Homo sapiens: one gene and its partner. The protein of the gene in region 2 interacts with the protein of the main gene of each other region in a pairwise test. Each region holds a gene or a part of one and is shown on either strand. Other genes may lie near its edges.

The links. The genes of interacting proteins can lie anywhere in the genome.
Region 1: the proteins of CEP83 (region 2) and YES1 interact in binary tests that used the Homo sapiens proteins (3 or more experiments, as listed by UniProt).

What each region holds. Positions count from the first base shown.
Region 1 is NC_000018.10:731,066-739,836, reverse strand, and holds part of YES1 (tyrosine-protein kinase Yes), read left to right. Parts: intron 1-25; coding exon 26-102; intron 103-2,875; coding exon 2,876-3,029; intron 3,030-6,871; coding exon 6,872-7,003; intron 7,004-8,771. UniProt on the Homo sapiens protein: Non-receptor protein tyrosine kinase that is involved in the regulation of cell growth and survival, apoptosis, cell-cell adhesion, cytoskeleton remodeling, and differentiation.
Region 2 is NC_000012.12:94,306,060-94,310,500, reverse strand, and holds the end of CEP83 (centrosomal protein of 83 kDa), read left to right. Parts: intron 1-393; coding exon 394-583; intron 584-1,583; coding exon 1,584-1,688; 3' UTR 1,689-2,803; downstream 2,804-4,441. UniProt on the Homo sapiens protein: Component of the distal appendage region of the centriole involved in the initiation of primary cilium assembly.

The DNA of each region.
Region 1 (8,771 bases), on a different chromosome or scaffold from region 2:
ATGAATATCTTGCTGTCTGTTACAGGAAGCTTATTAGATTTCCTTAAGGAAGGAGATGGAAAGTATTTGAAGCTTCCACAGCTGGTTGATATGGCTGCTCAGGTATCTGTATATATACATGTATCCATTTGAATTAAAAGTGTAAATTAAAATGTGGAATAATCTTACCAGAATATTATAGTATGTGTAGTGAAATGGTGGGATTTTATTTTTATTTTTTATTTTTTAGAGACAGCGTCTCATTCTGTCACCCAGGGTGGAATGCAGTGGTGCACTGATAGCTCCGTGCTTGAAGAGCCTTGAATTCTTGGGCTCTAGCAATCCTCTCGCCTCAGCCTCCTGGGTAGCTAGGACTGCAGGCACAGGCCACCATTCCCAGCTAATTTAAAAAATTATTTTTTTTGTAGACACAGGGATCTCTCTGTGTTGCTTAGGCTAGTCTCAAAGTCCTTGGCTCAAAGGATCCTCCCACCTCAGCCTCCCAAAGTATTGGGATTACCTGGCCAATAATGGAATTTTAGAACTGGCAGGAACGTCAGAGATAATCCAATGTGAGCTCTTAATGATACAGATTAATGAAGTATCAAAAGATGAGAGGTATCTAAAATTCACAAAACTTGTTAGTAACAGAACGAGTATTAGAACCAGCTATCTAACTCTTAGTCCAGTGGTGTCCTGTATCATACGGTTTCTTAGAAAATAGATGTTTCCAGGCCAGGTGCGGTGGCTCACGCTTGTAATCTGAGCACTTTGAGAGGCCGAGGTGGGTGGGTCACTTGAGGTCAGGAGTTCGAGACCAGCCTGGCCAACATGGTGAAACTCTGTCTCTACTAAAAATACTGAAAATTAGCCAGGCGTGGTGGCGGGCGCCTGTAATCCCAGCTACTCAGGAGGCTGAGGCAGGAGAATCGCTTGAACCCGGGAGGCGGAGGTTGGAGTGAGCCAAGATCTCGCCATTGCACTCCAGCCTGAGCAACAAGAGCGAGACTCCATCTCAAGAAAATAGATGTTTCCACAAATGTAAAGTCTATATGTATTTATATTTCAACAGATAATTTTAAGAAAATTAAAATGGATGAGGGCTGTTCCAAAGAAAATATTAGTAATCTAAAGTGTATGCTGAATTTTTTTTTTTTTTTTTTTTTTGAGATGGGAGTCTCGCTCTGTCACCCAGGCTGGAATGCAGTGGTGCAATCTCGGCTCACTGCAAGCTCCATCTCCCAGGTTCACACAATTCTCCCGCCTCAGCCTCCCGAGTAACTGGGACTACAGGCGCCCACCACCACCCCCAGCCAATCTTTTGTATTTTTAGTAGGGACGGGGTTTCACCGTGTTCGCCAGGATGGTCTTGATCTCCTGACCTCGTGATCTGCCCGCCTCGGCCTCCCAAAGTGCTGGGATTACAGGCGTGAGCCACTGCACCTGGCCTGAATTTGTTATTTACTATAGTCCAACACAAGAATTAAGATGGTATATATACAGTTTAAAATGGGACTTTTTTACTCTTCTGACTTTTTGTTTTAAATATATAGTGAAAACTGTTAAAAGTTTCTCTTCAGATATGTGGTAGGTATTTGAGAGGCCTTATTATTGGCTTTGGTTGACATGCTGGTTTTGGAATCTTACCTCCTAGCCTCCAAATGTCCACAGAATCTGACAATTCAGAAAAGCTTTATACTGAGAAACTATACATAGGCAACAGGCATATGCCACGCCAGTTCATGCTTCTGAGTTAGACACTCTATGGTAGGGGAGGTTGGCAATCCATTTTTGTTTTTTAAAAAAAAAAAAAAATTAGGTTTTGTGAGCCACATCCAATCTGTCATACTTTTTTCTTTTTACAACCCTTTAAAAATGTAAAAACCAGGCTGTGCGAGATGGCTCCTATAATCTCGCTTTGCGGGGCCTGGGCAACATAGTGAAACCCCATCTCTACAAAAAAATACAAACATTAGCTGGGTGTGGTGTCGCATGCCTAAGTCCCAGCTACTCACTAGGCTGAGGTGGGAAAATTGCTTGAGCCCAGAAGATAGAGATTGCAGTGAGCCACGATTGCACCACTGCACGCCAACCTGCGTGACAGAGTGAGACCCCGTCTCAGTCAATCAATCAAAATGTAAAAAACAGTTTTAGTTCTCTGGCTGTGCAAAAACAGGCTGCAGGCCACTTTTGGCCTACAAGCTGTAGTTTGGGAACCTATACCTTGTGGTTAATACCTTTATCACCATGTCATCTTAGGTTGTGCCTGATAGAGACCTTGATGAGCTTGTATCCAGAGGTACTAAATTACCTTGTGATTTACCTCTTCTCCTAACCACAGACACAAGAAGACATTAGGAGGGTTAATCTTGGTCTTCAGAGTAATGTTAGGTTTTATTTTTTTTGAGGCTGAGTCTCGCTCTGTTTCCCAGGCTGGAGTGCAGTGGCACAATCTTGGCTCACTGCAACCTTTGCCTCCTGGGTTCAAGTGATTTTCCTGCCTCAGCCTCCCAAGTAGCTGGGACTACAGGTATGTGCCACCACACCCAGCTAATGTTTGTATTTTTAATAGAGACAGGGTTTCACCGTGTTGGCCAGGCTGATCTCGAACTCATGACCTCAAATGATCCACCTGCCTCGGCCTCCCAAATTAATGGGATTATAGGTGTGGGCCACCGCACCCAGCCAGTGTTAGATTTTTGAAATCTGAATTTAGCCTGCATTTTTATTATGTTTTCTGGTTTTCCTGTTATCTTCTAGACTATACCCTGTTACCATCATCTCCTTCTAAAATAATATGATTTTCAGTGACACAATTTGATATTAACCATAATTGTCTTCTCTCTGCTTCCCTTTGTATCGTATGTCTTGTGTTTTTTGTTTTTCTCTTTCCAAGATTGCTGATGGTATGGCATATATTGAAAGAATGAACTATATTCACCGAGATCTTCGGGCTGCTAATATTCTTGTAGGAGAAAATCTTGTGTGCAAAATAGCAGACTTTGGTTTAGCAAGGTTAATTGAAGACAATGAATACACAGCAAGACAAGGTAAAATTACTTTTACATAAAAGCTTGTAATGTGTTGTGTGTTTTGCTTAACTCTCTTGACTATACAGGGTTTTCCAGAATAAGAATTGTTTTAGCTTCCCTCAGAAGAGTCATAGAGACATTGATTTCATTCATAAAATCATGTACTGCTGTGGCTTTCTGATAGTTATTTCCTCCAAGAAAGAACTTGACTAGGTATCCTTTGCATTATACATAGAGCAAGTAGTAGCCTCTTTACACTTCTTTTGACATGACAACAAATATATTTTAATTTCTTTCCTAGAAAGGCCAGAGGTTCTCAGTCAGAGGAGATATTGCCCTGTACCGCCACTCACCAGGGGACATCTGACAATGTCTACAGACTTTTTTGGTGGTTACAACCTGGGGGCTACTGCTTGACATCTAGTGGGTAGAGGCCAGGTATACTGCTGAACCTCCTACAGTGTACAGAAATGTGCAGGCAAACCCCCCCTTCCCCCCACAACAGAATTATCAGGCCCAAAATGGTAGCGGTGCTGAGATTGAGAAACCCTGCTTTAGACATAGTGCTTTCTTTCAACCTCCATACTTCTGTACAGTTACCTCCATCTGGAATGCCTTCCTATCTGTAATGTTTGTTGTTGTTGTTGTTTTTCGAGATAGGGTCTCCCTCTGTTGCTCAGGCTAGAGTATAGTGGCGTGATTTCAGCCCACTGCAGCCTTGACCTCCTGGGGCTCAGGTGATCCTCCCACCTCAGCCTCCTGAGTAGCTGGAACTACAGGTGCACACTACCACGCCTGACTAATTCTTTGTATTTTTTGTAGAGACGAAGTTTTGCCATGTTGCCCAAGCTGGTCTCGAACTTCTGGGCTCAAGCAGTCCTCCTGCCTTGGCTTCCCAAAGTGCTAAAATGGCAGGCGTGAGACACCATGCCCGGCCTGTAATCTTTACATGTGAAAATCCTAACCATTCTTTAGGGCCTAATTTAGCTGCCACTTTTTTTTTCAATAGTTTTTGGGAAACTAGTTCTTTAGTGGTGATTTCAGTGCACCCATCACCCAAGCATCTTGCACTGTACCCAATATGTAGGTTTTTTTGTTTGTTTTTTTGAGACGGAGTCTCACTCTGTTGCCCAGCCCAGGCTGGAGTGTAGCGGCACGATCTCGGCTCACTGCAACTTCCGCCTCCCAGATTCAAGCGATTCTCCTGCCCCAGCCTCCCGAGTAGCTGGGATTACAGGCTCGTACCACCACACCCAGCTAATTTTTGTATTTTCAGTAGAGACGGGGTTTCACCTCCAACATGTAGTCTTTTATCCACCCCCCAACCTTTCCCCCTTACTCCCCAAAGTCCATTATATTACTCTTATGCCTTTGTGTCCTCATAGCTTAGCCCCACTTTTAAGTGAGACCATACAATATTTGGTTTTCCATCCCTGAGTTACTTCACTTAGAATAATGGCCTCTAGCTCTAAGTTTCTGCAAAAGACATTATTTCATTCCTTTTTACGGCTGAGTAGTATACCATGGTGTATATATGCCACATTTTTTTTTATCCACTCATTGGTCAATGGTCATTTAGATTGGCTCCATATCTGCAATTGCGAATTGTGCTGCTATAAACATTTGTGGATGTATCTTTTTCATATAATGATTTTTTTTTTTTTGCTTTGAGACACAGTCTCAATCTGTTGCCCAGGCTGGAGTGCAGTGGTACAATCTCAGCTCACTGCAACCTCCACCTCCCAGGTTCAAATGATTCTCCTGCCTCAGCCTCCCCTGTAGCTGGGATTACAGGCACCTGCCACCAGGCCCGGCTAATTTTTGTATTTTAGTAGAGACACGGTTTCACCATGTTGGCCACGCTGGTCTCAAACTCCTGACCTCAGGTGATCCACACGCCTTGGCTTCCCAAAGCGCTGGGATTACAGGCGTGAGCCACCACACCTGGCTGATTTCATTTCCTTTGGGAAGATACCCAGTAGTGGGTTTGCTGGATTGAATGGTAGTTCTGCTTTTCGTTCTTTAAGGAGTTTCCATACTGTTTTCCATAGTGGTTGTACTAATTTACATTCCCACCATCAGTGGAAAAATGTTCCCTTTTCACCACATCCACACCAACATCTATTGTTTTTTTTTTTTACTTATTCATTATGGCCATTCTTACAGGAGTAAGGTAGTGTCTCACTGTAGTTTTAATTTGCATTTCCCTGATGATTAGTGATGTTGTATGTTGTAGTTGCTCCTGGTTTTTTTTGTTTTGTTTTGTTTTTGAGATGGAGTCTCACTCTGTCACCCAGGCTGGAGTGCAGTGGCGCGATCTTGGCTCACTGCAAGCTCTGCCTCCCGGGTTCTCGCCATTCTGCCTAAGCCTCCCGAGTAGCTGGGACTACAGGTGCCTGCCACCAAGCTCGGCTAATTTTTTTTTTTGTATTTTTAGTAGTGACGGGGTTTTACCGTATTAGCCAGGATGGTCTCAATCTCCTGACCTCATGATCCGCCCACCTCGGCCTCCCAAAGTGCTGGGAATACAGGCGTGAGCCACCGCGCCTGGCCAAGTTTTGCTTTTTTGCCCAGACTGGAGTGAAGTGGCATGATCTTGGCTCACTGCAACCTCTGCCCCCCAGGTTCAAGCAATTCTCCTGCCTCAGCCTCCCGAGTAGCTGGGATTACAGGCATGCACCACCACACCTGGCTAAGTTTTGTATTTTTGGTACAGACAGGGTTTCACCGTGTTGGCCAGGCTGGTCTTGAACTCCTGACCTTAGGTGATCTGCCCACCTCGGCCTCTCAAATTGCTGGGATTATAGGCGTGAGCCACTGTGCCCAACCACCTGCCACTTTTTAAATAAAACATTTTGTAATGGTGCCAAGGAAAATTGATCATCTGTTTGTCTAAATATCTAAAGAACTCTGTTTTAAAACACTATCTACAAACACATATAAATAACTTAAAGAATGTAAGACACCTATAATATTATTTCTGCAATAAGTTTATAAACTTCATGAAAGCCATGCTTTTTTTTTTTTTTTTTTTTTTTTTTTTGAGACGGAGTCTCACTCTGTTGCCCAGGCTGGAGTGCAGTGGCGCAATCTCAGCTCACTGCAAGCTCCGCCTCCTGGGTTCACACCATTCTCCTGCCTCAGCCTCCCGAGTAGCTGGGACTACAGGCTCCTGCCACCTCGCCCAGCTAATTTTTTGTATTTTTGGTAGAGACGGGGTTTCACCATGTTAGCCAGGATGGTCTCAATCTCCTGACCTCATGATCCACTCACCTCGGCCTCCCAAAATGCTGGGATTACAGGCTTGAGCCACCGCGCCCGGCCGAAAGCCATGCTTTTTAGGTTTCCATAGTGATTAGCATAATGCCCTCCACAAAAAAGATATACAGTAAGTATTTGAGTTAATTAACATGGACTTTTAAAAGTAGTACAATAAAATTTTCCAGAATGATATAAAAAGTAGGAAAACCCATAAACATTATAACTCAATAGAATATTCACTCATCAACCAATAGTTAACTACAGCTATTAGGTGCCAGACTGTACTTAAAAGTTACACATATTATAACATGTATCTTTGGCTTACTAGAGCTTCAACCTCTATTTTCTTAAATTGTTTTCTGTTCCCACAGCCAACTTATTTTTTATATCATCAGCTGTCTAATCAGGAAGAAATGTGATTTATTTCAATATGAATTTTAAAAATTAAAGAATTTTTATCCCATGTATCTTGTACATTTAAAGAATTGACACTGATGACTACAGTAGAGATATTGACAGAACATTAGCCCTGCATATGCTATGTTTACACAAATAGATTTTTAAAAAACAATTAAGCAAGATGGTCAACATTATTTTAGGTGCAAAATTTCCAATCAAATGGACAGCTCCTGAAGCTGCACTGTATGGTCGGTTTACAATAAAGTCTGATGTCTGGTCATTTGGAATTCTGCAAACAGAACTAGTAACAAAGGGCCGAGTGCCATATCCAGGTAAGCTTGCATTTTATAGCTCTTGGTTATCTCATGAGTGGCTTTATCAGGAGTTTATTAGGAACAGAATTGTAAGCGGGGAAAAGGCCTTTATTTCTTCTCATAGTCCCCCTGCCTCTCCCTCTCCCCACTCCTTCCCTTTACTGTGGCATTGGATGGGTAACTGTGGCATTGGACGGGTAAGTCAGTGAAAGCCACGATCCTTGACAGGGTGAGCACATGAGATAGGCCCCACATTCACCTCAGCTTTCTCAGGACATTTTCCAAAGGGGCCTCTTACTGTTCTCTCAGATAATAAACATATCTTAAATATCCTGGCTCATCCACCCTATACCCTAAATAACTGTTCTTTCCCAGTAGTGTGATTGGTGTTTTGTTTTTTTTTTTTTTTTTTTTTTAAACACAGTCTTGCTCTGTCACCCAGGCTGGAGTGCAGTGGTACAGTCTGGCTCACTGCAACCTGTCTCCCGGGTTCAAGCAATTCTCCTGCCTCAGCCTCCCAAGTAGCTGGGATTACAGGCACCCACCACCACACCCAGCTAATTTTTTGTATTTTTAGTAGAGATGGGGTTTTGCCATGTTGGCTAAGCTGGTCTCGAACTCCTGACCTCAGGTGATCCACCTGCCTAGGCCTCCCAAAGTGCTGGGATTACAGGCGTGAGCCACCGTGCCCATCATGGTATATTTTTTTAAATATGTACTTGCCTTGTTTTCTTCAGTAGATTATTTTGAGATTCTTTTCTTGTTTTATTTCTCTAACCTATTTATAAACCAGCACTTTAATAAATATATCTGCCATTAATAAAGAGGAAAAATGAAAGTGTTTCCCTTTCAAAATTAAGAGACTTTTTTTTTTTTTTTTTTTTTGAAATGGAGTCTCGCTCTGTCGCCCAGGCTGGAGTGCAGTGGCACGATCTCAGCTCACTGCAGCCTCCACCTCCCAGCTTCACGCCATTCTCCTGCCTCAGCCTCCCGAGTAGCTAGGACTATAGGCACCCGCCACCACGCCCAGCTAATTTTTTGTATTTTTAGTAGAGACGGGGTTTCACCGTGTTAACCAGGATGGTCTCGATCTCCTGACCTTGTGATCTGCCCGCCTCGGCCTCCCAGAATGCTGGGATTACAGGCGTGAGCCACCGTGCCTGGCCTCAAAATTAAGAGATTTATATAGTTTCTAGGGGGAAGGAGAAATTTTAGCTCACTTGAAATTCAGCGATCAGTATTACTTTAGTTTGTTACTTCTAAACTCTTGTACTGAAGTATCCTAATGTTGAGAGTGAAAGCATATAAAATTTAATCTTTAGGAAAAACTGTTTTGCTAATCTTATGGGTTTTGCATGTTATCTAACATATTCCTCTTCCCTACAGTTCCCTCCAGCTGTAGATCTAATGCCATCAAATTTTATCACCCACTTTGTCTGGTTGCTGTTATTCACTGATACCATTCAAGTTATTCTCATTTAATGACTCACCATTGTCCTCTCCAACAAAACTCCTCTCCTGTCTTAACTCATTGTCATCTTAATACACATGGTGATGATTCTTCTATTACCCTGGTCTCTTGTAGCTTGAACTCTTCTCCTGTGTAATCTTGTCTTTCACTCTACCTTAGCCAGTCTTTCCATCTTCATACCTTAAACCTTAATGTTACCAATAACTGCAACCCTTTCAAAATCTATTTCATGCATCTACTTTCTGACCACCACTTGCCATCTTTCCAGATAACTCCCTCCACCCCAACCCTAGCAATTTCTTGATGCTACCAGGA
Region 2 (4,441 bases):
TGTGTATACTGAGGGATGAACTGTATTTTTATTTGATTCTTTCTGTAAGATAAGGCACTCTTTTGGTTTAGAGTCTCCCTTTAGTTTCAGGATTCATGAATGGGGGTGAGTAGGAGGGTAGGAGTGAGTACCAAAGTATCAAAAGATTTTAGATCTTTAATTAGCAAATAAAACTTTATAATGAGTTGATAGTCTGCAATGCTAATGATTGCTAATGATTAAGATGTTATGTCATGTTTCTGTTTATCTTTCTAGGTAAACAGATTTTTTATCTATATATTATATATAGATCTCATAATTTAGAAATTCCAGTTTAAAATTATATTCTGTGAATCATACTGTGCTTCAATAGGGTATAACCATGTTAAAGAAACATTTCTTTTTCTTTTTAAGACAAAATGTTCCTTTTGAAGACTATACAAGGCTTCAAAAAAGACTAAAAGATATACAGAGAAGACATAATGAATTTCGAAGTCTAATTTTGGTTCCTAACATGCCTCCAACAGCATCTATCAATCCTGTTAGCTTTCAGTCATCAGCCATGGTTCCAAGCATGGAACTACCATTTCCTCCTCATATGCAGGTATGAGCATTTATTTTAGGGGGAAAAAAAAAGTCGTACATTTTTGTAGGTTTTTATGTTTAAATATGGTGATAAAACTCAAATTATAACTTTGGTCAGTGCTCAAAATTCACCACAAAAATGGCATAAACATTTAAAACTACTTTTAACTTCTTCCCTTTCATTTAGCATAGAAATTTGCTGAATTCAGTTTGAATCATGATCCTTTAGTGTTGGTGCTGAGAGTGAAATCTCTTACTGGACGATAGAAAAGAGGAAACTTGATTGAGTCATTGAGTAACCTAGAGTTTGTAGCTTATTCATAATGTTAATAGTAATTACTACTGAGAATTTACTAACGCAGTGAACTGTGCATGTTCCGTGCAATGTCTAATACTAACGAAAAATGCTTTGAGGGCAGATATTACTATTCCTAATTCATAGATAAGGAAACTGATTCAGAGTGAAGTGACTTGCATAAGGTCATAGCTAATAAGTGACAAAGTTTCAAACCTAAACCTGTTGAATCCAAAACCCGGGCTCTTTCTATTGTATCAAGCCCCTGAGGTATTGAAGGAATCAGATTGATTCTTTTTCAGAAGATGGGAGTATTAATAAGTAATTATGTTTTATAACATAAGCACAGAAGATTTTAATCACTGAATTGAATCTCAGGCCAAGTGCTTTGTTTATAATAAACTGCTGTTAAACACCAGTGTTGTTGGAAAGTTACCATGTAAGTATACCTGGGCCCTGCATTAGTATTTTCTAATTCACTCCCTGGTGAATTTTATACCTAGAGAAGAACAGACTACGGGTTTTGCTTAAGGCTAGAGCCTGAGGCAGGAGAGAAGCAAAACTAGATGGTAGTTTAGCCCATGCTACTGTTTTTAGACTGCTACAGTGGTCAGCATTTCCTTGCCAGATGTTATAGGCATATATAAAAGAGGCAGTCCAAGGTTGCTACCTAACAGTTTTTCTAATAGTTTCTTTTGCTATGCTTTCTCTACATCATTTTAAGGAGGAACAACATCAAAGGGAACTCTCTCTACTTCGCAAAAGACTAGAAGAACTGGAAACAACACAAAGAAAACAACTAGAGGAACTTGGATCTTCCGGAGAATGATGTTCTTGGAGAACAGGCAGATCAAAAGAGGTGAAGTTGGTGACTCAGTAAAACTTGACATTTTAACCTGTGGCATTTAGATACTTTTTACTGTTTGCCAAAACACTTGAATGTGCCTCAAGAAAAGGTACCTACTACATGCTGTATTGTATGACTGTCAGGATTTTAAGATTATACAAGTGAAGCATTAAAAGAGAAATTCTCAGAGATATTTAGAATATTTGACAATGGTTTGAGAATGTAAAACAAAAAGGAACTAGTTAGAGTCAAGTTTTAAAATTTTTACTTTGTTGAATTTTTTTTTTTGGCATTTTGAGTGAAATATAACTATCATTAATTCTCTCTTCATCTTTGAGATGCTTGGCCATAACAGGGTCCATACACATCTTCTGGTTTACTATATACAAAAACTGTAGTTGAAAAAAGATGACAATTTAAAAGTCAGCCTAAAGAATGTAAAGGTATCTATATACAAAAGGCTACCTTTTCTAAAATCTGTGTGCACATAATTAAAGAGCTTAATTTTTTTTTAATCGTGTGTTTAATTTTACATCAACCATATAGCATATATTTAGCAATATGACAGTCTACTGATTTTGGCTTTGTTAGAATAGAGAATAAGTGCAAATAATTAAATCCTATGGCTGTATTAACAAGGGGGCCATTGATTATAAAACTTGAACTCAGGTCCTTTTATAAACATTGTTGGTATTTAACTTTACTTCCCATTACTGTGGATCTAACCAAATAATTATGTGTTTTGTGTCCCTAAGTATGCTCTCATTTTTTTTGGTCTACACCCATTGGAAGCCTTTTTAATGTGACATCTTTTAGAGGAATTCTGCTGGAATAATTTCATGTTAACGAGGCTAAAGCTCAAGTCTCCCAAATTAAGTGGAATGTTCATTATCCCAAGGTGTTCATAGTCAAAAGTCCCAGTTGATAGTGAAGAAGGCCAGGACTGTAATTGAGCAGTCCTTAGCACCATTTAGCAAACTAGGTTTACTTACTACATAATATAGCTGCTTATTCACAGCATATACAGTGACACCTTATCTCTGAAAAATAATTTCCACGGAGCCACTTAGAATAAAAAAACTATTATAACTAGAAAATTGAAAAAAAAAAAAGACAGTCCACAGTTACATCAAAATGTTTATTTTTTGGATATAGACATTTAAAACATTCATCTCCAAGAACAGCTTCAATCAGGTATACAATAAGAAATAGACTTTAAATCCTAATACAGAAAAGGTAACAGAATTTTTTTGAATGCTGCTGTAGACACTAGTGTTAGAAAAAAAAGTTTATAAATGGTTTTGCACCAAAAAAATATGCAAAGAAACTTGAAAATAGAAATTGTTTGCCATTTGTTGCTCTGGTTGCTGTTTAATATAGACCCAGTGACTGATTGTCTTCAGCACACATCTAATTTGGCCATTTACTGCATTTGGCTAATGTGATCCAAAATGTGATCTAGATAGTGCTTTTCACTGGAGGATTGACAAACACGCTACATACATTAGTGAATCTTCATACCACCTCAGTGAGGTAGCTTAGAAATATTATACAGAAATTGAGGCACAAAGAGGTAAGTGACTTGCCCAAAGTTCCCAACAGCACAGTCCCTGGAAGAGGAGGTAACTCTCCACACAGGACTCATGTGCCAGAAAGCTGGACAGGGACACCCTCATGTAGCATTTAGTAAATACTTAGATAAAGCTGTAGCTGATCCTTTGAGTTTTCAGTACCCTAAAGTAGTAGGGGAAGTCTTTTGGGCAACTCTCCTACCCTTGGCTCTCAACTTTCCTACTGTTGTTCTCTTATGAACTCCTTCACCTCTTTGAAGACTGTAGCAGCCTTCAATGGGGACCAGACCTCTCACCTTTATTCTGATCTGTCATCTATTTGGTAGTTTTGTTTGTTTGAGGTGTGTCCGTTGGACAGACAATGGTCAAAAGCAACAGGATTGGGAAGGTGCCTATCAGGGTAGTAACTGCTTATTTTCTCTGATCAGTTTGTTGAGGTGTCACCTCTCTCATGCTTTTCCAGATAATACAGAAGCAAAAAGGAATTGCCTTTAAGACAAATTCATATTTAAATCCTAATGCTCCATACAGTGTTGGTAAATGATTTCAAGGAATATGTGATCAATGTTATTTGACTTGAAAAAATTTTCTTTCCTAGATGGGGGATTTGGAGCACCAAGGGTAAAAGGTGCCTGCCACAAGAAAAGCTCAAGAGTTGCCAATTATGCTGTTTACTTCTTCTGGTTTAATAGAAGGAAAACACAGTGGTATTAAAACTGGTCATGAGCAGCAAAAATTCAGGAATTAAAAAATCAGCACTAAAAAGACTACAGTATAACTGGATAGAGAATTCTTTAAAAAGAAAGGCATGAATAAAATGGGTATTTTAAATTCTTTCTCCTGCGAGGAATACTTTCAAAAAGTACATAGTAAGACTAAGATACCAAGTTGTATACTAATATTTTTCAGGCCTTGGGCCTCAAATATATATATTTATATATAATACTCCAGTGTGAACAGCAATTCGATAAAATGTAAAATGTATCTTTTTTTTTTTAAATCACACACAAGTATTCATAACCACAGGGTTCACCAGAAATCTAAAGCAAGGAGACACTCACTCATATAGAAATGGAGTTACTCTTCCACAGATCGTTCTGATCAAAGGTTTTGGAACAGAAATGAATTAATGATTTTTTTGTATAATATCCAACATGTCCACTA